Homo sapiens: one gene and its partner. The protein of the gene in region 1 interacts with the protein of each later gene in a pairwise test. Each region holds a gene or a part of one and is shown on either strand. Other genes may lie near its edges.

Region 1 (3,053 bases):
ATGCCTCTAACTTCCGTGATAAGTTTTTACCTCCAGTGTTGGGTCTTCTTTGCCTTAGTAGGAAACTCATCTGTCCTTTGAATCCCTGGGAGCTAGATAAATGAGGGGTTACTATACTTTCTGCTTTTCCAATTTCCCTCAGATGGCTAATTCATAATTTACTATCTTTGCTATATGTAATAGCAGTGTAAAATAAAAATATAAAATAACATAGAAATGTAAAAATAACATAGCTGTAAATATAGATTTCATAGTCTTGGAAGTACCAAATCTACTTTAATAGGAAGCACTCAATTAAAAATTAAAGTTGTTTGTAGGAAAACACTACCACATCTGTGACAGTACTAAAGAAACTCTGATTCTGGGGTTAGTGGGATACAATTTTCTTGAGGTAACTTAATATTTACAGTAAAGACGGTAAATTGGTATTGTCTCATTACCTTATAGCAATACAGCAATAGCTTCAGAAAAGATAAATATATAAAACTCAACAAAAAGAACCAGAAGGTATATGTAGGCTTTTATTAGGGCAAGCATTTCCATATCCATACAGATTTCATTAAAACAAATGGATGTCTCAAGTATCTTTGTTAAACAGGATCCGAAATGAAGTAAATAGTAGTTAAAATTAATTATAAATAAAGACATTTCAGCACATAAACCAACAAGTCTTTTCTAGATTTTTAATACCAGGACCTAACAGCATCATTTTCCAAGTAAGTGACAAATAACTAATGTGAAAACCATATTTAATATAGATGATGTCACAAATGACAATGTGGTTTTCCATAGTAAAGAAATACGTTAATTTTCTTAAATCCTATTTGGTATTACAAAATAAATTTTACTGGTCAAAAAACAACCAAAAAAAACCAGGAAAACAGACATGATGGAAAGGTTGATAAAATATATTAATAACTTAAAAATGCTGTCACAAGCATGGAAATGCTACCATTATCATTTGAATACAACAAAATGCTATAAAGCAAAGAGTTGTCAGAATACAGTAGAAGAGCTATTCTGAAACAAATGAAGAGTCAAGATCTTAAAACAGTGACAAGTATTTTTAATGTATGACAGACACTGAAATACCATGCAGAAAGTAAACAGAACTATTTTTTGAAGTGGTACTTACAAAGCACAGATGTAGCCTTCATAATGCAAGAAACATAGCAAATTAACTTAACACCTCCTTCAAATAAAAGTGAGAACCTCTTGGGAGAATTTAAGCACCATTAGCAGACAGATCCTATAGCAGTTAATGAAATGTTTTGTATTTCAGTAGAAAACTATTTCAGTGGTGAAAACGATGTAGGAATCAGAAGCATATTCTGCTGAGATACTAGGTAGTTGACACTTTCCCGAACTGGAAAAACATTTCATAGAAAGGCATATAGAGTTACTGACTGAAACACATTTGTTCTAAAAATAATTCATGCCTAGTCAAACAGCTTACCAGCTGCCACAACTCTGGGATCCTCATGGGACTTATGTCTCCCAGCTGCACGACTATCTGCACTCTCATTCCACCAAAGAACATGAACTGCAGAAATAAACCACAAGTAGCTTCTAAAAAATATGGCCTTAACAAATAAGAAATAACAGAAAAATGAATCAAACCCATCCTATTCTTTTTTTTTTTTTTTTTTTTTTTTTGAAACAAGAGTTTCACTCTTGTCACCTAGGCTGGAGTGCAGTGGCACGATCTCGGCTCACTGCAACATCTGCCTCCTGGGTTCAAGCGATTCTCCTGCCTCAGCCTCCTGAGTAGCTGGAATTACAGGCGCCCACCACCACGTCCGGCTAATTTTTTTTTTTTTTTGTATTTTTAGTAGAGATGGGGTTTTGCCATGTTGGGCAGGCTGGTCTCGAACTCCTGACCTCAGGTGATCCGCCCACCTTAGCCTCCCAAAGTGCTGAGATTACAGGCGTGAGCCACCGCGCTTGGCCAAAACCATCCTATTCTTTAAATCGAAATAGTGATATCAAAAAGGTAAAACTAAATATGTTACTGATAAGATTTCAGAGGGGTCAGAGACTTGCTAGAGAAATTGATAAATTAATCAAATTGGTTTTATAGATGAAGAAATAGAAGGCTGGAAAACGGAAGTACTGAAGTAAAACAGCTAGAGGCACAATCAAGACAAGACCCAAATTTTATGATTTCCTACTATATTTTCCCTTGATTTTTAAAAAAGCAAAATTATGAGCAAATTGTGCTTATTATTAAAATTTTACATTATACAAAGAAGAAAATTGAAAGTGGTATAATGTTAACAGTATAGAGAAAACCTCTATGGAAATTTATTGTACTTCCTTTAGAAAATATGAGTAAAACCAAATCAGGGTCTTATTGTATATTATAATAACAGATTTAGCTTAGTAACAAGTTTTTAAAAACAGTATTTTCTATGGCAATATTAATTTTTAATGGTTATATAAATTCCTCCTTACAGATACAGCAACTTATTATGTCAACCCCTTATTGTTGACTATTTAGACTATTTCCAATATTTCAGTATTCTATAAAATACTGGAATAAATGTTGTTCTTGTACAAAATTGCTTATGAAGTTTTTATAATTGTAATATATACATGTTAGATGTATAGGAAAATGCAGATTAAAAACAAACTAATCATTTTATTTTTGGTGTATCTCTTTTATATTTGGTGTATCTCTTTCTATATTTGTGTATATATGTATTTTTATTTTTTAATTTTAATTTTATTTTTATTTTTGTAGAGACAGGTTCCCACTTTGTTGCCCAGGCTGGTCTCGAACTCCTAGCCTCAAGCAATCCTACTGCCTTGGCATCCCAAAGTGTTGGGATTACAGGCATGAACCACCACGCCTGGCCTGTATTTTTATATATAGTTGTATATGTATACAAATAAACATATATAAGCATATTTGCTTATGCTTATGTAAATACACGATATGACGTACATGTATATCGATTTCTGTATTACGTATGTATTACATAAAGAAGGTCATACTACATTTCCAATGTTTCTTTAATGTAAACAATATTAACATAAACTTCATTTGAGCA
Region 2 (3,615 bases), on another chromosome or scaffold:
GGGAACAGCCAGAGAACTGTGTGTCGACTGGGTAATTAAATGCCATACTGCTCCCAAGAACTGGAAGGACCTGGTCATTTGTCACCAGGAAGGCTATGTGTCCCAGCTCTTTAACAGTGGAAACCTTGCTGCCCTGTCTGTGGAATACAATCTATTGGCAATCTAATGGTCTGTAACAATTAAGACCCAAGTCAAAGGAGTTGATTTTGAAGTTTCTACAGCAAAAAAAAAATTGTTTAAGTTTCTTTGTAAAGATGGGGTCTCGCTAGGTTGCCCAGGCTGCTCTTAAACTCCTGGCCTCAATATAGCGAAATTTAGATGCCTGGATGGAAGAGCATTTGGTATATAGTTTTTGGCTTTTCTGCTTGGTTTCTCAGAATCCTTGGAGCCCCTCTCTTCTTACCACCAGTCAGCCTCCAACCCATTCCTCTACCAGCCCCCTCCCAAGTCCTTTCAAGAGATTATTATAAGTAGTACCTTCTCATTATAGGAATATTGAAAAACACAAAGAAAGTGGCATCTATAAACCTGCCTCCCGTGGGGAACTACAGTTAGCATCTTGTATTTTATGCTAACCTTTTTAAAAGACATGTTTTATGATGAAAATTCAAATGGATGCTATTCTGATGAAACTTGGGCTGGATGGGGCACAGGTAGGGTGCTTGTTGCTTTCAGTCAGATGAAGGAGGGGTACAGTTTCCACGATTTCTAGGGGGTCCTTCATTTTGCTTTCTTGATTGTTTTAGGGAGTGGCTGAGGCTGAACTGGAACAGAACCTGAGTCGGACTTTCAAAAGCCTCTTCAGAGCAAGCGATGAGGTGAGGGGTGGGGATGGGTGCAGAAGAACAGGAGGGGGCAGTTGTGAAGGAAGTAGGGTACCTAGTGTGTGGCAGGGACCAGGAGTAGCAATCTGGCCTCCTTTTCTTTCATTTCTATAGTCAGGGTAATTGAGGTCCTCACTCTACTGGGAAAATTTACATCCTCGTTGACACACAAGGTCAGAGAATGATTATAATAATGATGGCTTGGAAATTATGCTATTACCATTACCATTTTAACATGCATAATTGGCTTACCCAAGTACAAAATTAATTGATGTCCCCAACCCTCTTCTTGAAGCAGAGGAGTTTAGAAACCTTTAACTCTGTAAGCTGCACCCTCCTGTCTTAGGTGTTAGGAGTCATCATCACTATTGTTGTTTTATATACAGTCAGTGCCTGCTCAAACTGTCCCATATTTTCTACTTTCTTTACTGATCACTTCTTGCATCTCACTCATTTGCATTGAGTTCAGTTTCTTTCTTCCTGAAACATCCCCTTTAGTAGTTCTCTCAATAAGAGTCTGTTGGTGGTAAATTCACATTTTGGTGCCTGAAGACATCTTAATTTTAATCTTGAAGAATCATTTATCTGAGTATAGAATTTTAGGTTATTTTCTTTTAGAAACTTCTGTCATTGCTTGTGAGTCAGCCTCGGGTCTAACCTCCTATACATTAATTGTCTTAGCCAATTAATTGTCCTGGACACTGCAGTGTCTGATCTGCAGTTTAACCTGTCTTTGAAGTTTTAATTTCAATAAATAGTTTTTTTTAATTTGTGAAAGTTTTATTTGGTTCTTTTTCAAATCATTCTGATCTCTTTTGATAGAGTCTTGTTGTATTCTTATTTTTCAGTTCCTTTTATGTTTTCAATTATTTTAAGTATATTCATTTCTAATTCTCTCTTGTTTCTCTCTCTCCCTCTCGCAAACTCTGTTATTGGATGTTTTTGGGGAGTCGTATTTACTGTTTGCTACATTTTTTGCCTCTTGCTGTGGGGCCTTTTTGTGTGAGTGTGGGTTTTGTAATTTTGGTTTATAAGCTCATCTTCAGCAGTACTTAATCTGTACCCATCTGCTTCAATTGGGCTTGAGGAAATGACCCCTTGAGTGGTTAAGGATTTCTTCTGCCAGGCATCCTGGTGGCATTACCAACCCAGGCTCACTTTGTTGTTATTGTTGTTGTTGTTCTTGTTTACTTCACACCTTGAGAGTTTCCAGATCATGCAGAGAATGCAAACTCAAATCCAAGCACTTGGGAAGGCAGGCCTAGAGCTATGAATTCCCAAGGGGGTGTCTTTTGGTTTCCTCTTAGTACCAAGCTGAAACAGACAAACTCCTTTAACATCTTTATCATCATGAGGGGATTTTTTTTCTAATCAATTTTTTCACTGAGGGTATAGCATGTCAGAGACCCCAGATTTACTGGATTTACCATGGAGGAGCATGGAATATCACATCTTCAACTTCTCATCATAGGCCAAGGTCTCTTTTCTTGTTCCCATTGGCTGATAAACCTAGGTCTTCATATTACCAAGGTCTGCAAGGGCCCTGGGGCAGTCTCAGCCCAGAGCTTTGGTCGTGAGCCCGCTCTTTACTTGACTTCTGTGAGGGGGTCCCTGGCTCTCTTGGGAGTTCCACATGTTTGTTACAGTCTGCGTGGTACTCAGAGGTCATTTGTCATAACAGGGTTTTCAGATGAGCATATTTCCTTTGTCATTTGTCGTAACAGGGTTTTCAGATGAGCATATTTCCTTTGTATCACCCATGACATCATTTGTAACTCTTTTCTTTTCTTCCTTCAGAGTGTTTTATCCATGCATAAAGTCTGTGAAGCGGGTAAGAGACATGCTTGGGAGAGCCATATCTGGAACCAGCTGAATGTTAAAGGGATGTTTCTGTCTCTGACTGCTATGGGCAGAAGCCCTGAGCTCTCCAGCTCTGAACTTTAAGTTGCCCAACCAGGGTCCCCTCGGCATGCATAGGGCTGACTCTAACCCCAGGCCTGAGCACACAGCCTGGAGTTCCTACCCTCTAGGGAGCTGTGGCTTCAAGATCTTAAGCAGTAAGAGCTTGGAGGAGTCTTAGAGCTTGTCCAGGGCAAAATCCACCCTCTACTGATAAGGACCCCAGGATTGAGAGCTTACCTCTATGGGGGTCACCTCGTGTATGCAGGTGGAGTGGAGTGGGGCCCCTGCCCAGGTCTCCTCCATTGCAGTCCACTGGCCCCTCTCCATCCAGGCGCCATGTTTCCAATTCCCCCACCTGGAGCTCATCCTTGTCTCCCTCCTGGGTTGGGTATGAGTGAAGGGTCAGAGTTGAGATTTGATTTGAGCTCATCCCCATGGCCCCTAGATCCAGCACTCTTCCCACAAGACCTTATTTTTGCTGCAGCACTGTGGCCTTGACAGCATTCACTTGTATTTTTATGAATAATGATGACCACTGTCACTTGTTTGGGCACGTGCTGACCATCTGTATAAAACTCTGGACTAACCCCCTTTAGATAAAATATTTGTGATCCTCGAAGCATTCTGAAAAATGCTACTATTTTTAATTTCCAAAGAGGAAAACAGGTCTCAGAGGGTTAAGTAACTTGTCCGAAGTGGCTGAGCTGGGGTTAAACTCCTCTGACCCTGCAGGCCATGCTCTTGTCACTGCTCAAAGAACATCTTCCTTCCCTCCCCCACACCCACATTCCCTTATTCCTTCACACCGTCTGTCACTCATTCATTCACCCATTCATTCATTCCTCAAATGCTGTGAGCACAGGCTGGGTATGAAGCTGGGGCTGCATGC

What was found. Proteins that work in one complex are often made in the same cells at the same time.
Region 2: the proteins of NIPSNAP3A (region 1) and EPHX2 interact in a two-hybrid assay, tested with the Homo sapiens proteins (one large-scale study listed by IntAct).

What each region holds. Positions count from the first base shown.
Region 1 is NC_000009.12:104,757,575-104,760,627, reverse strand, and holds the end of NIPSNAP3A (protein NipSnap homolog 3A), read right to left. Parts: intron 1,544-3,053; coding exon 1,457-1,543; intron 1,367-1,456; coding exon 1,290-1,366; 3' UTR 508-1,289; downstream 1-507.
Region 2 is NC_000008.11:27,536,038-27,539,652, forward strand, and holds part of EPHX2 (bifunctional epoxide hydrolase 2), read left to right. Parts: intron 1-746; coding exon 747-818; intron 819-2,621; coding exon 2,622-2,655; intron 2,656-3,615. UniProt on the Homo sapiens protein: Bifunctional enzyme. The C-terminal domain has epoxide hydrolase activity and acts on epoxides (alkene oxides, oxiranes) and arene oxides. Plays a role in xenobiotic metabolism by degrading potentially toxic epoxides.